Regions from separate parts of the Homo sapiens genome. Here regions 2, 3, 4, 5, 6 and 7 are each linked to region 1. The links come from fine-mapping of genetic effects on gene expression. A gene starts in region 1. Each other region holds a variant in brackets. All regions are shown on one strand. Distances are between the middles of the regions.

Region 1 (4,499 bases):
AAGGGAGGGTAGGGGGCTTGTCTTGAAACCATCTGGGCTCCAGATGAGTCCACCATGGCCTGATATCTAGGGCACTATCGGTGGTGACAAGACTCCAGGAGAAAGGAGGGGAGGGCATCTCTGCTTCCAGGCCACCCTGGTGTTCAGGTTTACTTCCGTTCAGCAAACACGAGGAAAGGGCAGAAACCCACTGAATTTCTCCCAGGGGAAGGTGGCAGGATGGGGCCTGACCAGGAATGTCAAGTCAGAAATGACCTGAAGAGATTAGGCATACAGGGGGAGACCATCCCTATTAAAATTATCCAAAGGCAGCCATGTGTAACAGCTGAGCAGATGTGCTGCCTGCTGCCTCAGGATGATGGACCAGTGCATTCCAGCTGGTAGGACTGCAGGAATGGCTGGAACAGGCTGCTGTGATGGGGAGTGAGTTCCCGGTCACTGGAGGTATCCAAGCAGAGTCAGTAACCTGGAGGCAGGGTCTGGTGGAGACTGAAGCGCTGATGAGGGGGTTGAAGTTCATGACCCCAAAATTTCCCTTGACCCTGAAATCCTGGGACTTCCTGGTTTGCACACTGCCCAGAGCTGCCAGCCTCGGGGCATTACAGCCACACACCCTTCACCTGTGCCTCCCAAGCTGAGACTCTGCGGGGCCCCTGGGTTCCCTTTGAGAAGGCCCTGGCCTTCCTTTTTGCCTCAGATATCCTCTTCCTCTTTTCTATTTGCAGGGCAGAATGATCACCTCCCGGTGAGCTCTGTCCTGTGGTCTGGGACCTGCCAGGCGCATGGCATGGAAGACACGTCTCCCAGGCCACCTCCTCCGAGGGTGCCTGGCTGCCCTTCCTAAAACTGCAGCTCCGCCCCAGCTTCCGAGCTCCCTGCTCAGCCCTCACGCCCGACGCTGTCCAGGCATTTACCTGTTTATTTTGTTTATTTTCAGGAATGCAGGGCTGTGGGCTGTGCTGGGGGCACCTAGGACAGGCTGGGCACTGAGAGGGCCTCAAGACACCTTTGTCCACCCGACCGGCAGAAGGGAACTAGACTTGCTCTTGGCAGAATGGGCAGGGGCTGTCCACGACACTACCGCGTGCTGTGCTCACTTCCCAGCATCAGCCCACTCTGACCATCAGTTTCTGCATCTAAGACTTGGGTTAACACGGATCTCAGGACGTAAGGATTAAACGTGATAACACGTGGCACACTCCCTATGCCCAGCATGGCTCACGGCTGGGGATGAAGCAGTTAACCGCCTCCGCTGCAGGAGCGGACTTGGCAGCTGAGCTGCCCCCCCGCCCCCGCCGGGGACCTGTCCCTCTGCCCTCGGCCCAGGGTGCAGGGACAAGGACTGGGTGGCCGCGGGAGTCCCCCGAGCCCCATTGGCCTTCCCTTCCGGCCGCCGCCACGCGGGGCGCCGCGTCCCCACGGGTCTAGACGTCCAGCCAACTTCCCGGCTCTGCAAAAGCCTCTGGGGGTGCGCGGGGCTGGGCGGGGGTGCGGCGTGGTCTCCCCCAGGGTGGGCTCCAAAGCTCCCACCCCCGTCCGGGGCGCTGACACCGCCGACTCGCAAGCCTATGCCGCGCTCGGAGCGCCGCGGGGCCAGCACGCCCGGGCGGGCGGCCCGGAGGAGGCGGCGGCACGGCTGGGGCACCCCCGGCTCCGATCCGCGATGAATGGGGCGGCCCGGGCCCCGCTCCCCGCAGCCCCGCCCGGAGGTCCCGCTCCCCGAGCCCCTCGCTCCGCGGCCCTCGCCAGTACGTTGCCCGGGCGCTTCCCAAACTGCCCACGGAGCCGGACCCCGCGCTGCCAACGCTCCGCTCCGGGCAAGGCTGCGGCCCCCGCCGGGCCCCGGCGCTCGCTGCCCCGCACGTCCGGGCCCGGGAGGAGGAGGTCGGGGGAGCCGGGCCGGGCGCCGCGAGCGCTGGGAGGGTCCGGCCCCGCCGGGGAGCGGCCCCCGAGGGCGCAGGAGCGGGAGCCGGGCCGGAGACCCCCGCGCAGCCCGGTGACACCCCCGCCCCGCGTTCCAGCCCGGGGTCCCCAGGCACCGCGCGCGCCCAGGCGGCGCATCCGCACTCACCTCCGCTCCGAGGCCCGCTCCGCCCGCCACGCCGGCCGCCGCCAACGAGCTCCCGGCCCGCGCCGCCCCAGCGCTCTGCAGCGGAGGCGCCGTCCTCATCCCGACCGCAGGCCCGCCCGGGCCGCCCGCCCGCCGGGCACCGAGCCGCTCTGCCGCGCGCTGCGCCTCGGGGCGGGGTGGGAGGAGAGGGAGCAGCCGCCACCCTGCCCAGGTCGCCGCGGGCCAGCCCTGCAGCCAGCTCCAGCCCTGGGCCGGGTGCTGGGAAGGCCGGACGCCGGCCGGCGGCCGCGGGGTCTGCCCCCCGGAGGCTGGGGCGGCTTAGGTTACAGACTCCGCCGCCCCCGCACCCTCCCCCCAGCTATTTTTAGCGCCGCTTTTCCTAGGTGTTTGTTTCATGGGACCCACCCCGGCGATGGGGGGCCCTGAGGCATTGCTCCCTGAACCCCCTCTTCACACTCCCCAGCCAGCCCACCCCAGAATGGCAGGCCTTGCTGCTGAGACGGAAACGCTGCATTCAGCACAACTTAAAAAACGTCTGCCATAATGCTACCCATGTGGCTTCCAGTGGCTGCTCTATCTCCATCCCTGGCCTGCGCTCCAGCTCCCCAGGTGCCCACACATGACACGCTTGTCCCTGTGCTTCTGTCTAGGAGGTGGGGGATGTCCCGACTGGCACCTGGCACCTGCCTGGGCAAGTTCGGTTTGAGTGGCTCAAGTTGGCCCTCGAAGGCACCATAAGGAGGTCCCCATGGCACGCTTTCTCATAGGTGGGAGCTAACATTGCCCCCAGACCTTCGTGTCTCCACTCTGGGTCCCTTGTCCAGCCCTGGGACTGCCCCAGACTGGCCCGTGAGTTCGGCAGCATTGCTGGTGGGGCGCTAGGAGCCATCCAGGCCCCTAGAGAGGGAGAGGCCCTTACCGGTCATTTGTCCAACATCTCCATTCACAGCCAAGGAAACCAAGGCCTGAAGAAGACAAGGAACCTGCCCAAGGCCACACGGCGGAGATGGCTCCAGGCAGAGCCCCCTGGCCCAGTACGTGCCCGTCCCCGGCTGTCCCAGACAGGGGCGTGTGGGCCTCCTCCAAGGGCAGGGGTGCAGCGTTACGGGCAGCATCTGGGGACGGATCGCCCTCCCCCACTTCAGAGGATCCCAAGTCATGAACTTGGTGGACTTCTAAGAAATAGGGTGGCAGTGGGGGGACTTCGCAGAAAGGAATGCTTTCAGAATTAGTCCTTCAGACAAAGGTCCCCCGGGAGCAGGTCAAGCACGCTTTACTTACGCAAGTTCAAGTTGCACACCCTTTTAAGGACACCTTTATTATGTAAAGCAAGGTGTGGCCTAACCACGGGCCTTCTGGTGGAGCCAATGAGTGGGCCTGCCCCTCCCCCAATCTGGTCTGCCTCCTGAAGCTGTTTTGGGACTCTGCGAACGGTATAGAATAAACTAAAAGGAACTGCACATGGCAGTGGGGTTTCTGTGCTGGCATCGCAGCACATGGCATTCCTGCCAGTGGACGCGAAAACGTGAATTGAAAAAGGGGCAGGGGCTGAAAGGCCCCAGAGGCTCGAGGCTTGGCTCACATTTCCATGGCATCATCTGGGGCCTCCAGGTCCTGGGATCTCCCTTTCCATGGAAAATGGGGAAGAACTAAGAAACCCTCTCGAGTTAATCAGGATTTCAATCAAGCGGGTTTCCTAAAGTTTCAAGGGCCAGGGGTCCCCTGGCTGTGGACAAAGACCCCAGAGGGCGTTTCCTTCCTTCTCGTTTCTACTGGGTCTGTTCTTGTTTCTAAGAAAGACTTCAATTTCCAAACCCGTGTGTGTGTGTGAGAGAGTGCATGTCTGTGTGTGAGTGCGTGTGTGTGAATGCATGTCTCTGTGTGTGAGTGCATGTGTGTATAAGTGTGTGTCTGTGTGCGAGTGCATGTCTCTGTGTGTGAGTGCATGAGTGCATGTGTGTGAGTGCGTGTGTGTGAGTGCATGTCTGTGTGAGTGCGTGTGAGTGCATGTCTGTGAGTGCGTGTGTGAGTGCATGTCTGTGTGTGTGTCTGTGAATGCATGTGTGTGAGTGCATGTCTGTGTGTGAGGGCGTGTCTGTGTGTGAGTGTGTGTGTGAGTGCATGTCTGTGTGTGCGTGTGTGCGAGTGCATGTCCGGGTGTGTGAGTGCGTGTGTGAGTGCATGCCTGTGTGTGAGAGCGTGTCTGTGTGAGTGCATGTGTGTGAGTGCATGTCTGTGAGCGCATGTGTGTGAGTGCATGTCTGTGTGAGTGCATATGTGTGAGTGCATGTCTGTGTGTGAGGGCGTGTCTGTGTGTGAGTGCGTGTCTGTGTGAGTGCATGTCTGTGAGTGTGTGTGAGTGCATGTCTGGGTGAGGGCATGACTGTGTGTGAGTGCATGTGAGTGCATGTCTGTGTGAGTGCGTGTG
Region 2 (4,499 bases), 190 kb after region 1:
GGTACTCCACTTCTAAGAGCAACTTCACGCCATCAGCACCACTTCGGGCAAGCCATGCCTCTCTCTAGGCCTCAGTTTCGCCACCTACACACAGAAAGGCGAGGGCTGGCCTCACAGACTCCAATGTCCAAATGCAGATGGATAAGTCAGAGCACAGGTCTCCAGGAAAAACAGAACATTACTGATGTGGCCTGAGATATCAGATGTCTGTGGATCACGACGCAGCCTCCTCTGGGCAGAATAATTCCAGTTTCCCAAGTTAATCATCTTGGGAGCAAGTGTCTGGGCATCAAGTCCTGCTCGGTGTTGTCTCTGGAGCTCCCTCCTACCTTCCCAAACCCACAGAGGCTGTCCTGACCAGTTGACATGGAATATAAATTACTCCAGAAGAGATTTCCCTGGAGACAGCTCAGGGTGGGGGACCAATGAGAGACTCATGGGACCTTTCCTGACGCTCTGGGCTCTGTTCTCCTTTGCATCTCGGGACACCCCGAGGTCTCAGAGCAAGAGCCCTCTTCCCCCTTTTCTTCAAACGTCCATCTGCCATTGTTAGCTGGGCCCATGCCCTCTCGAGGACTGTTACCACCTTCATGCTGAGTCTGACGATATGACAGAGAGACTCTCACCCCAAGACACGTCCAACTTTCAGAATCAACTCTGCAACCTTGTCTCTTGGCCAGGATCAGCCGACAGCCCCAGCTAAAACCCACTTCCCCTCCAGCCCTCAGATCACCTTCTGTTCCCCCAGAAAATCCTCCCTCACCCACAGCCTCAGAGCAGATTATCAGTGTGAACTGAATCATGGATTTTCGCAAAACCACCCAGCGGGGCCCACGAACACAGCTATAATTAGCAGCACAGTCCCGGTGCAGAGGCTGCAGGTCATGCATGTCCAGAAAGGCAGGCCCTGTCACCCCCTGGGCCGCCTCCTGCTTTTAGCTCTCCAGGCTGGGGGATTTTGTTTGTGCACACTGTAAAAATTCACGCTCATCTGAAGGCACGTTCCATGCACACGTTATTTATTGTGAGATCAGCGTGCGATTACAACACAGCCAGCTGTATTCTGAGAACAGGCGGCTTGCGACCAGAGAGCCGCGCCTTGAAGCCCATCACCTCCTCGCCCACATGCGTTTCCCGTCAGATCTGAAAGGCGACAAGGGGAGAAAGACAAGCCCATCCATCAGCCTGCACCTCTGGGGCCTACGTGGCCCAGAGTTCTCCGAACTCGTCCAGTGTCCACAGCCCAGCAACACGCATGAGGGCTGAAGAAAGAGAGAAATACCGTTCCCTGGGACAGCGACGTGGACCAGCCCCACCGATTCCCTCCCCGCCCGGGTAACTCACTCCATGCTGTGTCCTTGGCCTCCTCTGACGTTACGAAACCCAACCCTGCGCTTTTTTCTTTGCTGCCTTTTAAAGACAGAAGAACAGCTGACACTTCCCTTTCAGCCGGCACCGTCCTGGCATGGGGAAAAAGCAGATGGAGGCAAGTCAATTGACATGTTGACAAACCAGTGGATCGGAAAATAAATCTACCCTGATCAAGTCACAAAAGCACGGGGAAGGAGACGCCGGGGGCAGCGCGAAATCCCGGGCACGGCTGCCTCCCGCCCCACGCCCAGGACCGGGAAGGGCCACGCAGCTGTGATGTTTTTCTCTCCAAAGGGAATTAATCATTTCCAGACGCCGGCCCAGCACCTGGTGCCCAAAGCCATAGGCCTGGGAGCTGTGCAGGTCTTGCAGGCAGACGACACCACTTAGCGGACGCGATTTCTTCCCTGGTCCCACTGCCTGGTGCGTGCAGAGAAACTACTCCCAAGTGGGAAGTGAGTGGCTTGTTGAGGCTTGGGACAAAGCTCAGGGGTGTCCCAGGTGAACCCCCTTCTCTAAAACAAGCAGGTCCCTCCCTGCTCCGACACTGAAATGACATCACGGGGCACTGAGGACGTGAGGCCCGTCCCCGGCTGCTGCAGTGCAGTGCCACCTGCAGGCCGTGTGGCCTGAGCAGGCTGTGCCATCTCCAGGCCTGCAGTCTCTCGTCTGTAGGAAGAGGATGATCAGTAGCCCAGCCTTGGAGGTTTGTGTGGCGGAGGGGGGAATAAACCAAGTAACCAGGGGCGGGAGCTTAAAGAGTGATTGCACCAAGCCACACTCTGCAGGTGCCGGGCCACGCTGAGGCCTGAGTGTTTGTGTCCCTCCACATTCATTTGTTGAAATCCTTAACCTCAAAGTGATGGGATTAGGAAGTGGGGCCTTCGAGAGGTGACGAGGTTAAGAAGCAGAGCCCTCATTAATGGGATGAGTGCTTTATAAAAGGCCCTAGAAAGCCCCCTTGCCCCTTCCGCCATGTGAGGGCGCAGTAAG[T/A]TAACCATCTATGAGGAAATGGGCCTCACCAGACACTGTCTCTACTGAGATCTTAATCTTGGACTTCCCAGCCTCCAGAACTATGAGAAAGAAACTTCTGTTGTTTATAAGCCACCTAATTTATGTTTTTTTGGGGTTTTTTTAGAGACAGGGTCTCGCTCTGCCACCCAGGCTGGAGCACAGTGGTGAGATCATTGCTCACTGCAGCCTCAACCTCCTGGGCTCAAGCTATCCTCCTACTTCAGCCTCCTGAGTAACTGGGACTGCAGGTGCACACCACCACACCCAGCTAATTTTAAAATGTTCTGTAGAGATATGGATCCTCCTGTGTAGTGCCCAGGCTAATCTCGAACTCCTGGCCTAAAGTGATCCTCCAGCCTCAGCCTTCCGAAGTGCTGGGATTACACGTGTGAGCCACCATGCTTGGCCTCCAATTTACGGTATTTTGTTAAAGCAACCCAGATGGACTAAGACAACTCTCATAATCAATATCATCATCCTTATCATCACCACCGTCACCACCATCATCACCATCACCACCAACCCCACCACCACCATCTCCACCACCACCATCACCACTACCACCATCACCACCATCACCACCACCACCATCCCCACCACCACCATCACCACCATCCCCACCACCATCACCACCACCACCATCACCACCATCCCCACCACCATCACCACCATCCCCACCACCATCACCACCATCACCACCACCACCATCACCACCACCACCATCAACACCATCACCACCACCATCACCACCACCACCATCACCACCATCACCATCATCACCACCACCATCACCACCATCACCACCACCACCATCACCACCATCACCACCACCACCATCACCACCACCATCACTACCATCACCATCATCCTCATCATCATCACCATCATCACTATCACCATCATCACCATCACCTCCATCATCACCACCATCACCACCACCATCATCATCATCACCACCACCGTCATCACCATCATTATCATCATTGTCATCACCACCACCACCACCATCACCATCATTACCATCATTGTCATCACCACTATCACCACCATCATCACCATCATGATCATCACCACTGTCACCACCACCATTATCAACACCATCATCACCACCATTATCACCTTTATCACCACCATCATCACCATCACCACCATCATCATTACCACCATCACTGCCATCATCATGTGATGACTCTCAATACTGTCCTCATCATGTGTGACTTGGACTGTGGACCAGCCCCTCGGGCTCTGCTCTGCTGACCTGTATTCTTTGTCTCTTGCTCCTGAGAAGCTGGGAGTTGAGACCCAGTAAGGTGTTGTAGAGACACTTGTGACCCCAAATTCCATGAGACAGAGGACCTCCCATTTTCTTTTCCTTATTACCGCATGTCATCTTCCTGCACAAAGTAGACAAGACCTTGATGTCTGTCTCCGTTTCCCAAAAGAGTTACCAAGGGGGTGTTTTCCGAACTACCTGGCTCAGACTTCTTTCCCAGCATGGCCTGGTGAGTGCCAAGGAAAGGAAGCTGAGGCTCTACCAGCAGCCTTAGACCTGACACAATGTCCCTGCTCCATCTCCCTGCAGGAGCCATGCTCACCCCGAACGCTTCCACCAGCTCAGGCTGCATGGTTTCAACAAGAGGAATTTGTTTCTCATAGTTCTGGAGGCTGGAATTCCAAGATCAAGGTATGGCTGACTTGGCTTCTGATGAGGGCCCTTCCTGACTTCCAGGTGGCTTCCCACAGTGTCCTCACAAGGTGAAAGAGGGAGCTCCAGCCTCTTCCTCTCCTTGTAAGGACACCAGTCCCATCATGGGGTCCCACCTTCATGGCCTCATCTAAACTTAATCACCCTCCAAAGTCCCCCCCTCCAAATACCATCACGCTGGGTGTTAGGACTTCAATATACAAATTTGAGAGGGAGACAATTCTGTCCATAGCAGGCCCCTGGGGTCCCCATCCCAGCCAGAGTAACCCCACAGAAGCTACCAGTAAATCTCCAAAGCCATCACCATAGCCCACCGAACATTTCACCTCTGCCTGCGTTCTGAGAGTGGGACTTGTTCATTGTTCTGTTTTAATTCTCAGCAGGGCCTATGACCATGTCTGATGTTCAG
Region 3 (4,499 bases), 47 kb before region 1:
ACCCTCCTCTCTGTTCACAGGGAAGCAGCCGCAGGGAGTCTTCACTTTCTTGTGAGCTGGCGGCCTCCTTATTCTTAGGAAATGAAAGTTCCTGGTCGGGGCTGCACTTTGCTAAACTCCCGGCATCCAGCTGTGGGCCAGGCTGCTTGCTGGGCTCAGGCAGGCAGACATCTTGGGGGGGCCTGCTGTCTCCTTCTGCCTGGCAAAGTCCAGTCTTGGAGGCTCCGGCTTTCTGCACTGGCTGAAAATGGAAGTTGGCTCCCCTGGGGCTGAAAGGAGCCCCAGAAACCAGGTCTTCCTGGGCACAGGGGAGAAGGGCTGCATGTCCCGGATGGAAGGAGGCTGGGCAGGGCCACGTCCCCCCAGGCCTCCCCTGAACCGCTTCCACGGTGGCCACAGCCGATTCCGCACCCTCCCGATGTGCAGTGGATTCTCCAACGCGCGTGAGGTCAGCTGCCGAGAACGTGTCCTCGTGGGGCACGGTGGCCTGGCAGGTGCGCCGTTGGGAGGGTGGCTCTGTGCCTGTGCCGAGCTCCACCCTGCCCACCGACTCAGCTTCTGCAAGCTCTCTCGGGGCCCCACGTGTGTCTTTGCTCCTTTGCAGCTGACTTTCTAATTCGGTGACCAATTTCTGGATCTCCAGTTCATCCTCGGACAGGTGACTCATAAGAGCAACGCTACATCCACTCCCCTTCCCAGGCAAAGATGGGGCGGCGCCGGGAACCACTGTCCGTTCAGGGGGACACGTCTTACTGAGCACCTTTCCCCCCGAGAGATCAGGAAAATGGCTAGGCAGCATCGGGGATACTTCCTCAAGCAGCAAAAAAGAGGGGTACGGTGGATCTGACGGCACCGTCTTCTGGGGAGGGTCGGCACATGCGAACGGCAGACCGGAGTCCCTGTTCGCAGACAGGCTGCCATAGAGGGGTGGGTCGAATCTGTCCACCGGCAGGTCTGGGAAGAGGGATGAGGACTCCAAGGTCGGTGGCGATGCAGCCCTGCCTGGCTCCGTCTCAGCGGTGCCAGGTGGGCTCCTTGGCAGCTGTGGCTCGAGGGAACCGGCATCCTCGCCGTCCTGGCAAAGGCAGGAGCTGCTGGCCGGCGGGGCATCCCTGGCTGAGGGCTTGGGGTGCAGTTCTTCCAGGAAACAGCCAGCCAGGTCTTTGGGTCCGAGGAACAACTCACTGTGGGGGCTGCTGTAGGGCTGAGGCCCCTTTTTGGCAACTGGAACCCCCAAGGGGTCTCTGTTAAAACCAGCAGGGTCACAGCCAAAACTGGAGATCTTTGAAGACAGAACACTGGGTTTGGGGCAGGCGGTACTTGAGGGGTTAGCCACGGGTGCCAGAAATTCTCCAGGCTGGCGGGCAGGGGGGTCCTTGCTGTTGTGGGAGACTGGGGCCTGTGTGCCCCCAGGACCACCCAGCAGGCTGCCCACACCTGGCGTTGGCGAGCTTCCGTGGGGCGCCGTGTTGGCGAGGCTTCCCGACGGCTTGGGGGTGCCGGTGTCATGTCTGCTGGGCGGCGGCTGCTCTGGTATCAGGAGACCGGGGCTTGCTCCCATTTCTCCCGCACAGGCGGCTGGAGGAGAACGCAAAGCCTCTGTGAATTCTGTGCTGTCCGGGGCTGACTCTTCGGCAGTTTCAGGCTCCTTGGCCTCCTGGGGAAAGTCCAGCGACGGGCGGGTTTCCTCTGAGGTCTCGGTGTTGGTGGGGACCTGCAGGGGATCCTTGGGGGCCACTGAGGGGCGATCAGCACACTTGGGGCCTCCCTCCCTGGCGGCCGCTCCCGTCTCCAGGCTTCGAGACGGGCCACGGGCCTGAGGGCTCCTGCCGGGGCCCGGGCGAGACCCGCCCGGCTCCTCGGGGTTCGCGGGGGCTCCGTCCCCGCCGGCTTCCTGCCTCGCCGCCTTCCGGGGTTTCTGTGGCTCATCCTCTCTGGGACCCTGGGTCAGCTCCACTTCCTTCCTCTTCTCGCCTCGGCCCCGCCGGCCTCTGAAGCCGGGGCCCCGCGGCGGAGGCTGCTCGTCCTCCTCGGACTCCGAGGCGAAGTCGTACTCGCGGAGCCTGCGGTCCTCAGCTCCGGGCCGGGGCCTCCCCGCCGCCAGGGAGCCGCACCTGCCCGCCCGCCGCCCCAGCCGCCGGTGGCGCCTGTTCTTCTGCTGCACGATCTTCAGAATGAGCTCCTTGCCCCAGGCGCCGCCC[C/T]GAGCCTTCCTCTTCCTGGGGTCCTTCCTGGGGGGCAGCCGGCGGCGCCGGGAGCTGCGGGTCTCCTCGGGGAGGGCGGCGGCTCTCGGGACCCGGGGCGCGGGGTCTGCGCGGCTCCCGGGGGCCTGCGTTCTAGGGCGCCGGGGACGGGGTGGGGGCCGCTCCCCGAGACCGTCGTTCCTCCGGGGCCTCAGGCCGGAGGCTCTGCCGCCGCCGCCCGACCCCGACCCCTCTGCTGCGCCGCCCGAGTCCAGATCCTTCCGGAACAGCTTCAACTGCTTCCCCCTCCTCTGCTGCCTGCCCTGGCTGGGCGCATCCGCCTCGGTGGGGGCCAGACCCAGGGAACGCGTTTTGGGCCTGCCTCGGGCTGGGCAGCCCCTGTCCCCAGGGCGGGGGGTTTGGGGGTCCGGCGTGGCTGCTGGGAGCGGGGGCGGAGCTTTGCTCTCTGGAGTCACCCCCGCCTTGCTCTTAAGGGGGTGTCCGGAGCTGGGACCTCTGGGGCCGGAAGGCTCCTCGTCCGCGAAGACGTCGATGAAGCTGCTGTCGATCTCCGGGTTGTCCGACTGGTACTCCATGCCGTTGAGCGCCTCTGTGATGAGGCTGTCCAGCTTGGCGTCATCCTCCATGTCCAGGTCCGAGGCAGGGAGCGGGAAGGGGGTGGCGGCCAGGCTGGGCAGGAAGCCTGTCCTCAGGGGGTCGTCTTTGCCCTCGGCCTGGGCGTCCCCAGCTAACAGGAAGGTCTTCGCGTGGCTGAGCAAGCCCGCGTGTGCGTCGGCAGGGACTCTGGGGGCAGCGGGGGGCGAGGGGAGCCCAGGGGGGCCTGGAGACCGCTGGTGGCCATCCTTGGCCCTGGCCAGGAGCAGGCCACAGAACTGCCGGTGGGCCAGGAAGGCCGCCAGGCTGCTGTAGTTGCGGTCACACTGCCTGCAGGTCAGCAGCACGTCCAGCTGGTCCAGGCTGGCGCTGCTGAGGGAGAAGTGGTGTGTGGGGTACGGAGGCGGCGCACGGGGGAAGCCCTGCAGCCCTCCCCGACCCACCTCGGGGCCCTCGTGGGGGAATGGGGTCTCCTCCAGGCACTGGAAGGCACCCTCGGCTCCCAGCCCATCTGCGGGAAAAGGGAAGGCCTTGGCTGGCTCTGGCTGGTAGTGGGTGGGGAGGGAGTGGGGGGGCTCCGGGGACGGGAAGGGGCTGCCCGTCTCCTGGGGGTGAGTGGGTGGGTGGAAGAAGGCCGAGGGCCCGAGGGGGCCGGGGAGCTGGCTTTCCTCTGAGCTGGGGTTGGCTGGGCTGCTGGACATCGGCGACAGGGAAGAGCAGGTGCTGCCGGCCGTGTTGGTGGCCGGTGACGGCAGTGGGGACTCGCTGGGGGAGGCTCCCACTACCCTCGGTGGGGGCAGGCTGGGTGTCCCGTGGGGTGAAACCTGGGGCTGGGCCACCCCGAAGAACAGGGGCTGAGCCCCAGGGTCTGTCATTCCGTTGTAGGTGAACAGTGCTGGGGAGCCGCCCTGGCTGCTTCTCACGGCTGGCAGCTTCTCTCTGGGTCCCGGTGTCTTGCCAGCAGTGCCCAGGGCTCCTTGGCTGCCCCCCTGCCACTCGGGGCCCCCCGCGGGGAAAGGCAGCCGGCTCAGCATCTCCATTCCGTGGGGACTTGGCCGGGCGGTCGGGAGCACTTGGGGCCAAGGCAGGGGGGCACTCTGGGGGAGGCAGAGCCGCTGGCCTGGGCTGGGCTGGCCGTTAAAGAACATACTCCTGGTGGCAGCCAGGGGGCCCCCAGGAGGTGTGGGGTAAGGGGCTGCTGTGGGGTCCCACAGCTGGGGCAGCCTGGCGGGTGGGGGCCCTGGGGCGGCCAGCTCGGTGTCCGGAGGCCCCGGGCTGGTGTCCACCCCACTGGCTCTGTACGCCTGCCCTGGAAAGTGCCTCTGGGGTAGGGAGCTAGGGGGCCCTCTCGTGCTCCCCAGCCCATCCTGGGCTGAAGGTGGTCTTTCGGGAAGGATTTTGGTCAGGCTCTTGTGTAAACTGTCAGAGAAGGGTCTCGGGGCCGAGTGAGCAGCTCCAGGGGAAGAGAGGGCACCACTGAGGTCGCTGTGGCGGTTCAGGCCACCTGGCTGGCCCTGGTAGCAGGGCAGGGGTGAGGGCGCAGGCTGGGTGGGCAGCGGGTAGGCAGGGCCCGTGCCCACGGCCTCCTCCGGCCACGCTCCCTGGGGCTGATGGAAGGCAAACACCAGTGGCCCATTGGTGAATGCGTGCCCAGCCACATCCGCAGGGAAGGGTTTTGTGCTGGCCCCATGCAGTGCCGGGAAG
Region 4 (4,000 bases), 380 kb before region 1:
ATGGCTTTGGGGGCTCGTGGGTCCCACTTTGCAGACCTCTGCTTTAAGGGGTCTGGTCCACGGGGTCCCCTCTGGAGGGCCTGGGGGAAATCTCAGGGACCTGGGGTCTGGACCCGGGGGAGGGAGCGGGAGAAGCATGTGCGTGAGTCTCGTGCTGTCAGGGAGCCCGGGAAGTCTGCGAGGGCTTGGGGGTTGTGTCAGGGAGTGTGGGTTTTGCCCTTCAGTGGTGGAAGCTGGCTTGAGTCCCCTCGATCCCTCAAGGCTGTAGTCCTGACTCGGGGCTGTAGGGCAGGGCAGGGTGGGGTCACCCTGAGGCAGAAGGCTCAGCGGAGATGTTCTGGCTTGGCTCTGCCCCTCCCTGGCTGGGTGGCCTCACCCTGTGACCTTTGGGGACCCTGGTTCCTCTGAGCCAGGGGACAGCAGTGACTCCGCCTTCCTAGGTGGCTGAGGATGACATGGGCTCCCCCTGCAAATGTGGGTTCTGGCTCAGTGGCCAAGTGTATGATGGTATGTGGCTCTTGGGGTCCTGAGAGAGATGGGAGAGGAGCAGGGGTTTGTAGGGAAGCTGGCGGCTTCCACCCCAGCCAGTCACCTGCAGTGGGGGAGTTCCAAAGCTGACTGAAGCTTCGACCTTGTGGCTGGTCCCCTTCCTTCCTGCCTCAGTCATTCTGGTCTCTGGGGGATCAGGGCTGGGGGGCTCTGGGCTGTGGGGGCCTGTTTTTGTGACTTAAAGCTCTCCCAGCACAGCCCCCTGACCTCCTTCCTCATGGGCAGGACCTGGCCCAGGGGTCTCAGCACAGCCACAGGCCAGGGATGCCCTTGCAGATGGCCCTGGATGGAATTCCAGAACTCAGAAATGTCTCCTTCCCGTAAGGATGTCCCGAGACTCATGAGACCGTTTCCTTCTGGGAAGGGGGAGGAATGGGGAGATGAGTGAAGAGCGCACTGCAGCTCAATCCGGGAAGAAGCTAATCAATCAATCAGGGAAGCCAATCGATCGGAGAAGCTGATGGGAAAGCTGTGCTTGGTAGAATAGGCTCGTGCGGGCAGAGCAGTCGCGGCACTCACAGGCTGACTGTGAGGACCTTGGGTGTTACTTTGTGCTTCTCTGCATTTTAAAAACTTTTGAAAGTGGAGAAGAGGAAAGTGAATGTTCTCTGAGATTTCATGGAAAGGGGAAACTGAGGCCCACTCTAGCCAGTTTGGGCCCAGGGTTCCAACCTGGGGTGGCCCCGGCCCTCGTGGCCTGAGGTGATCGTCCCTGTGGCTCTGAGAGCAGCTGGGGCCGGGTCCCCGTTCTGGGGCTGGTGATCCTGGGGAAGAGCCAGGCAGTGCCCTGCCCACCTAGTGGTTATGAGCCCAGAATGTTGATTTTTTTCCCTTGGTTGCTTCATGACTTTGTTGAATTTCCAGAGTATGTGTGGGGGCCCCCGGCGTCCCACTCGCCCCAGCCCTGTGGCAGCAGAGCTGGCTGTCAAGCTCAGTCAGCTGGGCCCAGGGCCCCGGAGGTAGGTGGGTGTGTGCCTGAGCTTCCCCTTTGGGCCCTGCCAGGTGCTGGGAGGGACCACACAGGCGGCAGGAACTCGGGGTCCCCAGGCCTCGGCCACACCAGCCTGGTGCTTGTTATATATTGATATGTCTCTCTACCTGTGAAATGGGTATTTATTTTAAGGAGCTGACGCACGCGATTGTGGGGCTGTCACGTCTGAAGTTCGCAGGGCGCGCTGGCTGTCAAGAGCCGCTGTTGCAGTCTCGAGTCCAGGCTGTGCGCTCAGGCCGGGCTTCTCTGTGGCGGTCCTGGGAATTCCTCCTCCGGGCCCTTAGGCGACACTCCCCTGCCTTCAGCTGATTGGATGAGGCCCTCATGCCGTCTGCTGATTTAAATCAATCTCATTTTAAAAACACCTGCACACCAAATTGCGATTGGCGTTTGACTAAACTGGGCAGCGTGGCCCAGCAGCGCTGACACATGAATCAACCCTCACACCCCACCCGCAGGCGTGACCACGGCACCCACGCTGCCGACTGAGAACACAGCCGTGCGCTGACTCGCATGTGATGTCTCTGGTCGCACCTCCTCCATCCTCAGCACCCTGTTCAGAATGGAGATAGCGGCCGGGTGCAGTGCTCACACCTGTATCCCCAGCACCTTGGGAGGCCTGGGTGGGCGGGTCACCTGAGGTCAGGAGTTCGAGACCAGCCTGGCCAACATGGTGAAACCCCATCTCTACTGAAAATAGAAAAATTAGCCGGGTGTGGTGGCAGGTGTCTGTAGTCCCAGCTACTCGGGAGGCTGAGGCAGGAGAATCGCTTGAACCCAGGAGGTAGAGGTTGTAGTGCGCGAGATTGTGCCACTGCAC[T/G]CCAGCCTGGGCGGGCGACAGAGTGAGACTCTGTCTCAAAAAAAAAAAAAAAAAAAATTAGAGATAACGACTTGGGCTCTCTAGAGACCAGGGAGCCAGGCTCCAGGCGCTGCTGTCCAGCCCCTTGCCAGCTATACGAGGTGCTCACCTGGCCACGTGTCCGGGCAGTGCTTCTGGGGTGGCATCCACTGGGAGGGCAAGATGGTTCTGGTACAGGTGCCCAATTCTGTCCCCATTTCACTTACTGGGAACTCAAGGCACAGAGAGGGGAGGGCTGAGCTAGGACCAGACCCCAGTCTCCTGCAGAAGTACACAGACATGATGTACGACCATCCTGGACACCTGCCCTGAGATTCCCCTCCCTCTCCTGCCCTGTCCCAGTGGCCTGGGGGGAAGGGGAAGCAAGGTTCTGAAGGGAGTGTGACCAGACACCTGCCCGTGACACCCCCTCTCCAGGCTGCCTCCGAGTGGCTGGTGACTCCCCTCCTGCCTGCGAGGGAGGTGGCCAGGTTGCATTCCTCTCTGAGTGCCGGGGAAGTCCCTAGAGAGCAGGCCAGCCTGTGACTGGGCCCTGGGGCAGTCTAGACAGGCCAGACTGGACAGGCCAGGGGGCTGGGTGCCGCTGGGTAAATCACAGGGTGAGGGCTCTGAGTCAGCACCCCATCTTCTGTCCTGGGTCCAGCACCGCTGAGGACACAGTGGGCAGCCGGGTCTGCCAGGGCCAGGTAGCTGTGTTGAGAAGGCAGTGCTCCTGAGAGGCGGCTACCGGGAGGTTTTCAATGGCCAGGCTTCTTAGGAAGCCCTTGTTGCCTCTCTGGGGTGAGTTGCTGGGGCCATGGTTGGAGTGGTCGCCAGTGTCTGCCCCTGGTGCCGAGGGCGGAGTCCTCGTTTTGGGAGGTCACGGCATGATGCTGGGAGTCAAAGGCAGGCCGTGGCAGGGGCATTCCTTTTTTCTTTCTTTTTTTTTTTTTTTTGAGACGGAGTTTCACTCTTGTCGCCCAGGCTGGAGTGCAGTGGTGCGATCCCAGCTCACTGGGATCCCAGGCTCCCAGGTTCAAGCGATTCTCCTGCCTCAGCCTCCCGAGTAGCTGGGATTACAGGTACGTGCCACCATGCCCGGCTAATTTTTGTATTTTTAGTAGCGACGGGGTTTCGTCATGTTGGCCAGGCTGGTCTCGAACTCCTGACCTCATGATCCACCCGCCTTAGCTTCCCAAAGTGTTGGCATTACAGGTGTGAGCCACCGCGCCCGGCCTGGCAGGGGAATGTCGACGCGTGATCTCTGCCTGGAGAGCACGTTCATGTTTCCCAGAGGACACTTTAGAACATGGCGCCTGGGTTTGGATGAACCTCAGCCTAAGAATCTACCTGCTCAGGATCCAGCGACGCTGGTGGTGTGGACTTCAGCTCTGGAGAATGGGTTATATGGAACCTGGGCGCCGGGAGGGCATTGCCACGTGCTTGCTGCTGGGGCTTCAAGAGGACCCCATCTCCTGTGGCCGAGACCCCGTGTCTCAAGGCACATCCCCTTTCGTACCCCGCCCCACCCTCCGCAGCTTCATGACCTCTGGGTTTCCCCCAGGACCTTCGCATCTGATGTTCCCAGATCCTTCCTGCCACTGGGTCCTGCTCTGGTGCCC
Region 5 (4,499 bases), 96 kb after region 1:
TAAAATGAGTGAAATAACACTCATTGCTCATGGAGTGGTGATGGGAGATTAAATGAGCTAATTTAGGTGAAGCACTCAGCATAGTACTTACTTAACAGAGAACAAACACTCAATAACTCGCAGTCACAGATCGGTGTAATTGTGTTATTTTAATCATCATCATCATATCATCATCACCCTTGTCATAATAATCATCATCATCATCACCATCATCATGATCATCACCATCACCATCATCACCATCATCACCCTCATCAACACCCTCATCAACACCCTCATCATCATCATCGCCATCACCATCATCCTCATCACCATCATCATCACCATCACCCTCACCATCATCACCATCACTGTTGCCATTATCACCTTCATCATCATCATCACCCTCATCATCACCACCATCACCATCATCAACCTAATCATCATCAACACCCTCATCATCATCATCATTGCCATCACCATCATCCTCAACACCACCGTCATCACCATCACTGTTACCATCATCACCCTCATCACTATCAACATCCTCATCATCATCACCCTCATCACCACCATCATCACCATCACTGTTATCATTATCACCCTCATCATCGTCATTATCATCACCACCACCATCATCACCACCACTGTACTATAACTGTAGAGTCACCAAGAACACTGGATGTATGGAGTGTCTGCTTTATGCTCTTTGTCATTAAATGACTTTCTGGTACTGTTGCCCTTAGTGCTTCTGTTACAAGTGCTCTCTCTCTCTCTCTCCTGTGAAACTCTGGTCACAGGCTTTTACTTTTATTTGTCATCCTTTTATATTAAAGCCCCTCTGGTACATAGCTTTTGACATAGGAAGAGCAAGAGCCTGGAAGTCAGGAGATTTGGGCTGCATACTTTTTGGACAAGCAGGTCTCAATCTTTCCATCTATGCAACAGGGGTTACATGAGACAGTATCAGGGGTCCCGTCTAGCTCCAGCATTCTAGAATTCCTCTTGGCAGAAGAGCTTGTTTTTGATTCATTGTGAATTCCTCAAACACACATAGCAGGTGTTCATCAAGTGAATGCTGAATTAATGAATAAATGTGATGAGTATAAATGTCAAGAGAGTGATGCAATAAATATCATAGAGTGTAGCCTTGATGATTGATAGATTTGGATAGGTGGATGGGTAGGAGACAATGTTCTTGGCAATAAAAATGGGGTGAACAAAGGCAAATATGATAAATAAAAAACAGGTAGGTCCTGCCATCAAGGAGCGTGAGTGACAGAGTAGAATAAACACATGTGAAAACATCCAAGTTCTCAACATGCGTGCCTCCCTGGCTCCCTCTCTCACAAAGCTACTGGGGGCATGCTCCATGAAAACAAGGGAGTAAACCAAGAAGGTGAAGGGCATGGATCTAGGAAGCAGGAGATTCAACACAAGAGCAAGGTACAGATACTCCCCGGTAAGATGGAGAAAGGAGACTCGCAAAATGTTGACTGACCACAGGGCACGGAGAACATCTAGTCCAGATTGGAGCAGCAGGAGGAAAAAGGTTTCTCCACAAAGATGAAATGGATAAATTATCTAGTGTGTTTGAAAGTCTTGGGAGGAGATTTATACAACTGGAGTGAGTTTGGGATTGAATTAATAAGTGCACAGAAAAGCAAGCAAACAAACCAGCCAATCACAACCAACCGACAAAAATCTCAAATCATTTCTAAAAAACATGTGCAATAAAGAAAAGGAAATGACAGTACTCAGTAAGCCTCAGTTATGAATTACAGCTACGTGATCACCATGAAGTCAGCGCTGGCCATAAGGCTAATGCGGCAGGGTGAAGGAAGTCTAGCCTGGAGCGTGAATGCATAATGCTTAAAACAGAACTTCAAGAAGTAGCGTCACACCAGCATTCATAGCAACATGAAGACCGGAAAGGGTACTGGGGGTGGGGGCTGGACCTGGGAGGGATGTTGTTTCTCATAACAAGCCTTATAGAACTGTTCAATGTTTTAAGGCTTTAAGTGATGTGTATTTATAATTGTGATAAAATGATCCACCAGATAAAAAGTGAGCTACAGTTTTGCCAGCATGGGATTGATAAAGAAACTGAAGTTCAAGGGTAGCAGGTGCTACAAGGTGGGGAGACTTGGAGCTGTTGTCTCCCCCTAGTGGTAGTGGGCAGTGGTGCAGCCTTTTGGAGGTGGCTGG[G/A]CTCCGCTGGTGCGGTTGTACACAACCACTGTCTACAATGCAACATGCCATATACATGTGCACCTAGAGAAACCTTTGTGCCACACATCAGGAGACTTGTGATGCTCAGAGCAGTTTCACTGTGACAGCAAAACACTGGAAACTCCTGTGTCCGTTGACAGGAGACTTGGGTAGACAAATTGTGGCACATTCACACAAGGGTGTATTATACAGCAGTGAGGATGAATGGCCATCGGCTACGGACAACAACCAAGGTGCACCTTAGAAACTGAAGATTCGGTGAAATAAAGCAAGTCACAGAACAGCATATGGCCTGGACCCTACCATGTTCAGAAAAGCTTTAAAAAGCAAGAAAAATCTAGTGTTTGGGGACACTAGTTATAGGGTAGAACTGTAAATAAAAGCAAAAGAATAAGAAAAACGGGACTTAGGCATTCCTAAGCTCATTTGAGCTGCTGTAGTCAGATGGTCTCATACACACTCCCCCTGATGTGGCTCCACCCACATCTCCTCTCCTGAGCGAGTTCCCCAGAGCTCAGTATCTGGGAGTCGAGGGCCTCAGGGGGACTCATGTGACCTGGATGGATGCAGTATTATAAGACACAGAGGCAGAGAGGGGCCAGGACAGGGCCACAGGGCAGTATCTGTCCTGTTCTGTGGGCCACGCAGCACTGGGAACATGAAAGTACTTTTCTGTTCCTTCTAAAGCTCACAGCAGCTCACCTGTCAGTCATTGGGAGCCTCTTCCCAGCCAGCCCCTGCTGAATGATGGCATCTTGTCAGCACTGAATGCAGAATGTTCCTGTCCTCCACATTCCCTCCCCCACCTGCACTGACAAAGCCCTGGCAGGGGCCCAGGCCAGGTGAGGGGCCATGTCCTCTCCCGATGGCAAGTGGCTCAGATCAGCAGCCAGAGGATGGCATGTGGGAGCTGGCTCCTGCAGATTGGCAGGAAGGTGTAAATACCCGGCGTTCAGATGGGGAGAGGATGGGGCAGGGAGAAGAGGGCACCAGCGAGCTCAGAGCAGACAGGCAGGTGCAGAAAGGCCTGGCAGCCACCTGAGTATAACGGCAGATGTCAGCAGCCAGGCCGTGGCTCTCCCAGGACTCCAAGGAGCGAATCAATCTTGTTGCACAGTTAGCTGCCGCTGAGGCCCAGGAGCCTGAATCCATTCAGGACTCTGTGGTGAACGGAGTGGGGGCTTCTTAGGAAAACAACTGGAGGGACCTGTGACTTTGAGAAACTCATCCGTCCCAGGCAGGACAGGATGCACAAAAACTCCAAAAGCCAAAGGCAGTTCCCAACAGGGGAATGTGCTCCATCCCCAGCAATGGGGCACGATGGAGGCACCGAGTGGGCTGGGACTGGGGCTCCTGGGCTAAAACACAGGTGGGTGGTTCTGAAAGGAAGGAGATGGCGATGCTCCGGGCTGTGGGTCCGATGGGGGCTGAGCAGACAATGCCAGAGTGAGCGGCCTTCACAGGGTCAGCAGGAGTCTCATGGAGGGATGAAGACATCTGTAGCTGAGGCCTTCTTGTGGCCACAGGCCAAGTGGCACGAGGGCCCCTCCCACATGGAAAGCATTTGCCACCACTGCACTGTGACGAGGGTGGCCTGGGAAGCAGCAGACAACATGGTGGCCCCTGCCAGAGGGCACTCCCAACCCCCTCACTGCCCACCACTCAGAGAGGGCCCAGGGACATCACCAGCTGGCTTGCTCTCCACCGGCCCCACGGAGGCCCTGAGCACCTCCCCACCGTGCCGACGCTTCCAGCGTGTCTGAAAGGACATTACATGGACAGACCACAGCTGTGGGCAAGAGGGTGCCAAATGGGCCACAGGTGGGCCTCGGGTCCTGGGTGCCGTGTCAGCTGCTGGAAAGGCCTCACCTCGTGACCAGGCTGACCCTGCTCTTTGTGGCCCTGCCCACGCTGGCTGTGGCAATGCCTGGAAGATTCTGCTGTGACAGTGTGGCCTCCCACACTGTCTCCCCACAGCCCCTGGCTGCCTGTCTTCGTCCACCAGGGTGACCATGGCTGCTGCACCTGCCTGATCCCCTGCACAGATGCCGAGGGTTAGAGACCGCTCAGCAGTGGGCCCTGCTCAGAACTCTCTCCTGAGGGCCTCACCTGCCCTGGCAGGAACCCTCATGTACCCAGAATAGCTCCATTGCGGGAGGCGGGGCTGATGCTGCCTGCCTACCACAGCTCTGGGGGCAGTTCTCCGGGCACACGGGCCTTTGGCCCAGATAGCAGCCCTGAGACTCCACAGTCAGTGATGGTCATGGGCACGTGTGCCTTGGGCTTCTTGG
Region 6 (4,499 bases), 240 kb after region 1:
CCCGCTAGGCGCTCCACCCCGCTCTGAGTGGTGCCTCCTTAAGGCTGGAGACGGCCCTGAGTGCGTTAAGCACGCTAACCTATTCCATCTTCATGGTGTTGAACAGGTTGGAACTGCTGAAATCTCCATTGACACAGGGGGAAACTGAGGCACAAAACGATCAAGCACTTGCCCCTGATGCCATGACTGAAGAAGCTCCAGGTGGGCATTCCGTGGGCAGGGCCGCTGAGCCCCCCACCCCCCCAGGGCTTCTCCAGGTGAGGATTCGGTGAGTGCTCACCGGGTGTCGGTGAAGTGCCTGGGGCCCCATCTCAGCCTGTCTCCTCCCATCCTAATCACAGGCCGGTGAGGTGGGGATTGCCACCCCCAGTTTTCAGGCAGAGAAACTGAGACCTCTGCTTGTCTTTATTCCTGAGACTCTGATTCTGCCGCAGGGGCTCTCCCTGAGGGGCCCTGTGCTCTCAGGCCCCTGTGCGTGGAGGGTGACGATGCCATCCGTCCCACCCTTGTGGGCCATGCTGGCCCCAGGCTGCACATCCAGGTGGGGCTGGGGATTAAAGCCAGCACACAGGTGTGACCCACATCAGGGACCCTCGGGTGGGATCCACAGCGACGCAGCTGCTGCCGGCCGACTCCCCGCAGGGTGAGCTGATGAGCCTCCCCAAGCCTCAGTTTCCTCCTCTGTAAAACAGGGTGGTGACATGTGCTTTATAGACCAGGCAATAGAGTTCGAGCCCCAGGGCCACACCTGGCACATCACGTGTGCTCAGTAAACAGAAGCCATTCTTCAAGCTCCTGAGACTTGAGGCTCACGCTGAGGTCTGTGCTGTTGATAAGGACCTTCTCAGTCCTGAGGCTGGAGTTCAGTGCTTGAGGCTCACACTGGGCTGTTGATAAGGACCCGCTTAGGCATCACTCTGAGCTTTTCAAGGTCCCTCCCATCTATTTCCACTTTCGAGCCTCAGGATAACCCTCGCAGGATTCTGGCCCGCCAACATCATCTGCCCAGCCTGGATGGCAGGGCCAGGGCCAGGAGGTGAAGGTCAGGTGCCTTCGCCTGACCTAGCAAAGCAGGGCAGGGCTGTGGCTGAGAGCCCAGGGAACCTGCTCACCCTCCCAGGGCAGCCTTTCCCAGACCCCCCGCCCAGCCGGGTCTTGCAGGAAGGACAGCTGATTTATTCTCACCTTCTTTCTCTGCTTCCCTGTGCTGAACGTGGCCCTGCAGTTTCACCCTGGACGCACCCTTGGACATCGCTGTGTTGTTCCCCTGGAAGCCTGTTGAGATCCTGGCCGCTGTGGACTATTTCCTATCATCTGCATCAGGCATCTCGAGCTCAGCTCAGATCTGCACACATGAGCCTGTCTGCGTAGCCTCCTGCGGCTGCAGTCACAAATGGCCCACAGACTTATGGCTGAAACAACACGAATGCATTCTCCCACAGCTCTGGCGGTCAGAAGCCCAACCGGCTCTCACGGAGCTGAAATCAAGGTGTCGGCAGGGCTGGTCCCTTCTGGAGGCGCAGGGAAGAATCCCTTTCCTGCCTTTTCTGGCTTCCAGAGGCTTCTGTGTTCCTGGGCTCATGGTGCCTCTGACGTCACCACGACCTCTGCTGCCATTGCCACTGCCTGCTGCTGACCCTCCTGCCCCTGGCCTCCCGCCTCCCTCCTACAAGGATGCCCGTGATGACCTTGGGCCACCCAGATGACCAGGATGGTCCCCACCTGGAGGCCTCTCGCTCAGTCCCATCTGCACAGGCCCTACTGCCGTGGGAGAGGCACACAGCAGGCTCCGGGGACCAGGACGGGGGTGCCTCCCAGGACCTCTTTCCCAGGCTGAGCGTTTCATAGCAGGCTCCGGGGACCAGGACGGGGGTGCCTCCCAGGACCTCTTTCCCAGGCTGAGCGTTTCATAGCAGGCTCCGGGGACCAGGACGGGGGTACCTCCCAGGGCCTCTTTCCCAGGCTGAGCATTTCATAGCAGGCTCCGGGGACCAGGACGGGGGTACCTCCCAGGGCGTCTTTCCCGGGCTGCATGTTTCTTTCCTAGTCCGACTCTTGTCTTCTAACACTGGTTTTGGTGTCTTTTGTTACACAACTGCTTTAACTTCTTATGTAACTGAAGACGTCCATCTTGTCCTTTTTGGGATTAGAATTTGGGGTAGAAAGTCTTTTCCTCCACCAGAATTATACAACTATTCTATTTTTCTACTAATACTTTTATACTTTTTTTGCAATTTAGCGGATTTATCTGCACAGAATTTATTGTGTCCGTAAGGTGGGGTTCTAACTTTGTTTTTCCAGATGGTGGATTCATTGGCCCAACGATGCCTCTGAATGATTCTTTCCTCTCTTTCAAACGTGACCAATTTCCTACATTAAATTCTCTTGTAAAGGGCCATACGCTAGACTTGATTTTTTTGTTT[T/G]TTTGTTTGTTTGTTTTTTTGAGACAGAGTCTCCTTCTGTCACCCAGGCTGCAGTGCAATGGCATGATCTCAGCTCACTGCAACCTCCGCCTCCTGGGTTCAAGCGACTCTCCTGCCTCAGCCTCCCAGGTAGCAGGGATTATAGGCGCCCGCCACCACGCCCGGCTAACTTTTGTATTTTTTAGTAGAGGTGGGGTTTCGCCATGTTGGCCAGGCTGGTCTCGAACTCCTGACCTCAAATGATCCACCCACCTCGGCTTCCCAAAGTGCTGGGATTACAGGCCTGAGCCACTGCGCCTGGCCTCAATTTAAAATCCACTTACCTGTTTCTATACTGAAATTCCTCCTGGATTAACACAGTTTTAGAGTATATTTTGGTAACTAGAAGGGCAAGGCCCCCGGCTTTTCTGCAGGATCTTTGAACATCGCGTCTCTCACGTTCTGCCTGCTCATTTGTAAATCAGTGTTGTCACTGACTTTCCGTGCTACCCCCCGATTTCTACGTGGCTCCGTCCTCCTTTCCTCCGTGCTACCCCCCGATTTCTACACGGCTCCGTCCTCCTTTCCTCCGTGCTACCCCCCGATTTCTACGTGGCTCCGTCCTCCTTTCCTCCGTGCTACCCTCCGATTTCTAAATGGCTCTGTCTTCCTTTCCAAATATTTATTCCTCCGTATTGTATTTCCCCGGCCACTTTTCTTACCAGCTCTCTTACAGCTTCCATTTAATATAGCCAAAGTTTTTTTTTATGACTATATTTTTCATTTAAATCGGTTCTGCCACTTCAATGCCAAATCCATTTCTCTTGCTCTGGACTTTCATTATGACTCCCTCTTTTGTATTAAATAATTTTAGATAAACACATGTATTTCCTGCTGTTCAATTATTCCCTGTCTGCACAGTGCTGATTCTGTGTTCACTGCACTTGATCCTGACAGTTCGTTTCTTCCTGTGGCTGTTTATTGGAGCTCAAACTCGGTAGGAGTTATTTTGTGTATCTTTTGTTGTTGATGCTGTTGTTTGGAGACTGTCTCACGAATGCTGGGCTGAGGAAATGTCCTCATTTACCAGATCCTCTGGCCTGGGGTTCTGTGAATTTCCGTCTTAGGGATTCTGTGCTGTGCTAACCATGCAGTCACCAGACTCAGGTGTCGAGAAGGTCTGGAGATTCTATTTCTTATGGGAAACTTCTTTCCTCTACTCAAAGCCTGGACAGACAGCAATTTTCCTCATCATGTCCCCAGGCCAGGGGACAAAAAGGTTTCAGATCCACTTTTCACAGCAATTTTCTTCATCACGTCCCCAGGCCAGGGGACAAAAAGGTTTCAGATCCACTTTTCACAGCAATTTTCTTCATCACGTCCCCAGGCCAGGGGACAAAAAGGTTTTGGATCCACTTTTCACAGCAATTTTCCTCATCACGTCCCCAGGCCAAGGGGCAAAAAGGTTTCAGATCCACTTTTCACAGCAATTTTCTTCATCACATCCCCAGGCCAGGGGACAAAAAGGTTTTGGATCCACTTTTCACAGCAATTTTCCTCATCACGTCCCCAGGCCAAGGGGCAAAAAGGTTTCGGATCCACTTTTCACAGCAATTTTCCTCGTCACATCCCCAGGCCAGGGGGCAAAAAGGTTTCAGATCCACTTTTCACAGCAATTTTCCTCATCACATCCCCAGGCCAGGGGGCAAAAAGATTTCAGATCCACTTTTCACAGCATGCGCAGTTCCTTGGGGCTCTGAGCCTCCTGGCTGGGCTCATCCCAGCTTCCAGCATGTGGGATGCAGAGCAGTCTCTGCTCTGACGCTCATCACAATTCTCAGGATCTCCGAAACACCCTCTCATTTCACTCTTCATTTCTAGTCCTGAAAGCTTTCCCGGTCTTTCTTTCAAGCTTGTCTATGGACTTAAAATGTTGCAGGTTACATTTCACCCAGAATGTCTGTGTGTTTACATTGGGACAGGGTCCCCCCTGTCAGCACAGCCTAGCGTTTCACCAGAGGCCTCCCTCTAGCATTTTCCAGGCAGCCGAATGGTGAATAGCCGAATAGCTGTGCTTACGCTGCTTATTTCTTTTTC
Region 7 (4,499 bases), 70 kb after region 1:
CCTGGCAGCGATGGAGAAGATGACGGCCCCCACTTCCTGGGTCTGTGTGCATGTGTGGCCCAACAGTGACACACAGGATGGTGGCCCTGCTTTCTAGGTCTGGGGCCAGTGCCGTGCCAGCCCCTGCCCCAGGGACCTCAGAGGGCACCAACACTCCGACCACACAGATCTCGTGCGCCCGTTTCACAGTGAGGAAAACCAAGCCGCACAACCTTAGGTGACTTGCCCTGGAGCCCTGGCCCTCGGGGGAGACCTTCCTGCCCCTGGCTCTCACCAAAATATAATCTAGGGTCAGAGAGGAAAATCATATCTCATTCAAAACTCCAGGTCAGATCGAGGAGGACACTTCCTCAGCATAATTACAGAGATGATAGTCCACACCAGCATCATCATAATCACAGAGATATTCTACACCAGCATCATCTTAATTACAGAGACAGCCCACACCAGCACTGCCTGAATTACAGAGATGACAGTCCACACCAGCATCATCATAATCACAGAGATATTCCACACCAGCATCATCTTAATTACAGAGACAGCCCACACCAGCACTGCCTGAATTACAGAGATGACAGTCCACACCAGCATCATCATAATCACAGAGATATTCCACACCAGCATCATCTTAATTACAGAGATAGCCCACACCAGCACTGCCTGAATTACAGAGATGACAGTCCACACCAGCATCATCATAATCACAGAGATATTCCACACCAGCATCATCGTAATTACAGAGACAGCCCACACCAGCACTGCCTGAATTACAGAGATGACAGTCCACACCAGCACTGACTGAATCACAGAGATGACAGTCCACAGCAGCACTGCCTGAATTACAGAGATGACAGTCCACACCAGCATCATCATAATCACAGAGATATTCTACACCAGCATCATCTTAATTACAGAGACAGCCCACACCAGCACTGCCTGAATTACAGAGATGACAGTCCACACCAGCACTGCCTGAATTACAGAGATGACAGTCCACACCAGCATCATCATAATCACAGAGATATTCTACACCAGCATCATCTTAATTACAGAGACAGCCCACACCAGCGCTGCCTGAATTACAGAGATGACAGTCCACAGCAGCACTGCCTGAATTACAGAGATGATAGTCCACACCAGCATCATCATAATCACAGAGATATTCTACACCAGCATCATCTTAATTACAGAGACAGCCCACACCAGCACTGCCTGAATTACAGAGATGACAGTCCACACCAGCACTGCCTGAATTACAGAGATGACAGTCCACACCAGCACTGCCTGAATTACAGAGATGACAGTCCACAGCAGCATCATCATAATCACAGAGATATTCTACACCAGCATCATCTTAATTACAGAGACAGCCCACACCAGCACTGCCTGAATTACAGAGATGACAGTCCACACCAGCATCATCATAATCACAGAGATATTCCACACCAGCATCATCTTAATTACAGAGACAGCCCACATCAGCACTGCCTGAATTACAGAGATGACAGTCCACACAAGCATCATCATAATCACAGAGATATTCTACACCAGCATCATCTTAATTACAGAGACAGCCCACACCAGCACTGCCTGAATTACAGAGATGACAGTCCACAGCAGCACTGCCTGAATTACAGAGATGACAGTCCACAGCAGCACTGCCTGAATTACAGAGATGACAGTCCACACCAGCACTGCCTGAATTACAGAGATGACAGTCTACACCAGCATTGTCTTAATTACAGAGAGAGTCCACACCAGCATTATCATAATCACACAGACAGTCCACACCAGCATCATCTTAATTACAGAGATAGAGTCCACACCATCATTGTCTTAATTACAGAGATAGATAGTCCACACCAGCATTGTCTTAATTACAGAGACAGCCCACACCAGCATCGTCTTAATTACAGAGACAGTCCACACCAGCATCGTCTTAATTACAGATAGTGAAATAAGACAGAGATATTCACTAGGATTGAACATTTTTTGGAGGGATGGGCGGATGCAATTGGACTAGAGAAAGAATTACAAGGTATAAAAATTGAAAAAGAGCAGAGAAAATGATCACCATTTTAGTTGATATGATTACATATCTGGAAAATGAACAGAGTTCATGAAGATGACTGGTTAGAGTAAGATATTCAAATATCAACAGCTTTCTCATATATAATTAGATAGAAAATATAATGAGAGATCAAATTTATAACAGCAACAAAAAGATATCTCAGAAAAAACTTAGGAAATGTGCCTCAGCCACATGAAGGGAACTTGGAGGCACAGCGGAGGGATGCTCAAAATGCC[C/T]GAATCAAGGGAAGACCCTAACACTGACCCTGACCGTGACCCTGACCAGGAGCCACGATAATAACAAATATGTCAGTTATCCCTAGATCAGGCTGCAGAGTCAATCAGCTCCTTTTTCCTATACCAACAATTATTTCTGGAACTAAGTAAGTTGAGTCTAAAGTTCATATGGAAAAATAAACATCCAGGCCATCCTAGAATAATTCGTGAGGGCATGGAGGCGTGGAGTCCATGGCGCACCAGCATGGCTTGCAAAGCTACTGTAGTAAAATGCGGTTTGGGGCTGGTATGAAGATGGGTGGACCCATCAGTGGAACAAGGCAGACGCATTGACTGCGTTGTAAAGGCAGCATTTCAAATGGTCTTGGCACAGCTGGCTCACCCCCTAGACAAAGGAAAAATGGCGTCTCTCCCTCAAATCAAAGACTTAAGGGCAAAAAAACAAAAGCACTAGAAGAAATCATGAAAGATGTTTCTAACAAAATAATTTCAGCATGCGCAAGGCCTTTTGAAGAATGAAACAAAACACAGGAAGCTTAAAAGGAGGTGGGTATATGTGACCACATAAAATAAGGGTCTTAAAGCCAACACAAATGAACAAAACACAGGCACACGAGCAAGTGAAGAATTGGGGAGAAATTTGGCAACTTATATATCAGAAACAGGGGATTAAAGAAACAACAAAAAGAGTAAGTTACAGACCAACCCGTCAAGAGACAAATGGGCAAATGGCCTGAGAAGCTGGTGCAAGAAGGTAAATCCCAGCAACCTATAACCACATGAGAACAGGCTGAGCCTCCTGGGAATTAGAACTACCGTACTGATAGGCTTTGGCTGTGTCCCCACCCAAATCTCATCTTGAACTGTAGTTCCCATAATTCCCTTGTGTTGTGGGAGGGACCAGGTGGGAGATAATTGAATCATGGGGGTGGTTTCCCCCATACTGTTCTCATGGTACTGAAGAAGTCTCATGAGATCTGATGGGTTTATACTGGGAAACCCCTTTCACTTGGTTTTCATTCTCTCTTTGCCAGCTGCCATGTAAGATGTGCCTTTGCTCTTCCTTTGTCTTCTGCCATGAATGTGAGGCCTCCACAGCCATGTGGAACTGTGAGTTCATTAAACTTCTTTCCTTTATAAATTACCCAGTCTTGGGTATGTCTTCATCAGCAGTGTGAGAATGGACTAATACAAGCAGCCAATGAGATTTCACCATCAGGTGTTCCACAATCAATCATTTGAAAGCACGCAGCTTCAGGAACAAGCCCCAGGCTATATCATTGCGAAAATGCAAATCAATATGTCCTTGTTGGCGAACGACTTGGCCAACTCAATCCAAGTTTAAGACACAAAAACCTGGGGCCAAGTGTGGCCTCCCAGAAATCTACCTGGCAGGTACTCACAGAGACTTCCACACTAGGACTGTCTCTGCAACGCTGCAGGGACAGCCCTGAAACCACCAGACACCCCTCAGTTGGAGCCCAGCACAGTAAGTTATAGAATGAACCACTGACGGAGGGCAGGCCACCATCCCTTACTAGCTGTTCTGAAGTCCCCACAAAAGTTCTTCTGGAACTTGCTTGGAAATTTGCAGTGAGACTGTTTATTTTCTCTGCTTCTCCAATCAGGGTAAATATTCATGTTTCAGTGCAGAAACAGTCATGGGCTTTCTTATGGGTTATTTCCCTGGATCCCATGGGAGTGCTGTGTAAATGTACATTACATTTCTAAAATCCTGAGCTCTGAAATAAAAAGCCTGTCGAGCTCCAGGGTTTGGATAAAAGCCTGGGGACCTGCAGTTTCAGCTTTAAAAAGAGTGAGGCCTCAGCCAGGTGGCCAAGGTCAATGTCCCCTGCGATGCATCCTGTTGATGATGTAGACCCCTGAGGGGATGTGGTGAGATGGGCACTTCGCCCCCAGGGTCTTCCTCCCAGTGATTCATCGCTGTAGTCTAACCATGAGAAAAACACTAGACAATCCCAATTGAGGGATGATCCACAAAATGCCCAGGCGGTCCTCAAAACTGTCAAGATCCTCAAAAACAAGGAGTTGGAGAGGAGCCGAGGGAGGCGTGACGAGCAAATCCTGGGTGGGATCCGGATGTGGTCCTGGTGCAGGAGGAGGCTGTGAGGGTGCACGGTGAATGAGGATGGATCAGTGTTGGGTTCATCAGTGACAACAAAGGCACCGTG

Which allele goes with the higher level. Positions count from the first base shown, and alleles are read on the strand shown. Sizes are in standard deviations (SD) of each study's normalised expression. Not every link is listed here.
With allele G in place of T in region 4, the expression in CD4 T cells of the gene that starts at base 2,367 in region 1 is lower (large effect, 1.1 SD a copy in BLUEPRINT).

Evidence for each region.
Region 2: its variant is fine-mapped to the expression of ZNF469 in whole blood (TOPMed, PIP 0.98).
Region 3: its variant is fine-mapped to the expression of ZNF469 in whole blood (TOPMed, PIP above 0.99).
Region 4: its variant is fine-mapped to the expression of ZNF469 in CD4 T cells (BLUEPRINT, PIP 0.95).
Region 5: its variant is fine-mapped to the expression of ZNF469 in blood mononuclear cells (TOPMed, PIP 0.94).
Region 6: its variant is fine-mapped to the expression of ZNF469 in blood mononuclear cells (TOPMed, PIP 0.99).
Region 7: its variant is fine-mapped to the expression of ZNF469 in fibroblasts (GTEx, PIP 0.95).

What each region holds. Positions count from the first base shown.
Region 1 is chr16:88,380,827-88,385,325 of GRCh38, reverse strand. It overlaps ZNF469 (zinc finger protein 469), which reads right to left and starts at 2,367. Exons shown (of 3, transcript NM_001367624.2): 1 at 2,072-2,367. RefSeq lists enhancers at 3,008-3,551, 4,096-4,499.
Region 2 is chr16:88,191,711-88,196,209 of GRCh38, reverse strand. LINC02182 (long intergenic non-protein coding RNA 2182) reads right to left here and starts at 1,929. Exons shown (of 3, transcript NR_110944.1): 1 at 1,699-1,929; 2 at 1,345-1,460; 3 at 993-1,143. It also overlaps a transcript of ZNF469 not described here. RefSeq lists enhancers at 1,112-1,644, 1,853-2,147. The variant T/A (reference allele first, on the strand shown) is at 2,365.
Region 3 is chr16:88,428,298-88,432,796 of GRCh38, reverse strand. ZNF469 (zinc finger protein 469) reads right to left here. Exons shown (of 3, transcript NM_001367624.2): 3 at 1-4,499. LOC112268182 (a long non-coding RNA gene) reads left to right here and starts at 2,435. Exons shown (of 3, transcript XR_007065178.1): 1 at 2,435-2,525; 2 at 2,675-2,833. RefSeq lists a silencer at 2,042-2,201. The variant C/T (reference allele first, on the strand shown) is at 2,202.
Region 4 is chr16:88,764,086-88,768,085 of GRCh38, reverse strand. All of the region lies in intron 1 of PIEZO1 (piezo type mechanosensitive ion channel component 1 (Er blood group)), which reads left to right. Among named protein-coding and RNA genes, the nearest start is that of PIEZO1, 19 kb to the left of the region's middle. RefSeq lists enhancers at 1-453, 3,348-4,000. The variant T/G (reference allele first, on the strand shown) is at 2,361.
Region 5 is chr16:88,285,110-88,289,608 of GRCh38, reverse strand. It overlaps a transcript of ZNF469 not described here. Among named protein-coding and RNA genes, the nearest start is that of LINC02182, 93 kb to the right of the region's middle. The variant G/A (reference allele first, on the strand shown) is at 2,188.
Region 6 is chr16:88,138,877-88,143,375 of GRCh38, reverse strand. It overlaps a transcript of ZNF469 not described here. Among named protein-coding and RNA genes, the nearest start is that of LINC02182, 53 kb to the left of the region's middle. The variant T/G (reference allele first, on the strand shown) is at 2,424.
Region 7 is chr16:88,310,912-88,315,410 of GRCh38, reverse strand. It overlaps a transcript of ZNF469 not described here. Among named protein-coding and RNA genes, the nearest start is that of ZNF469, 70 kb to the left of the region's middle. The variant C/T (reference allele first, on the strand shown) is at 2,308.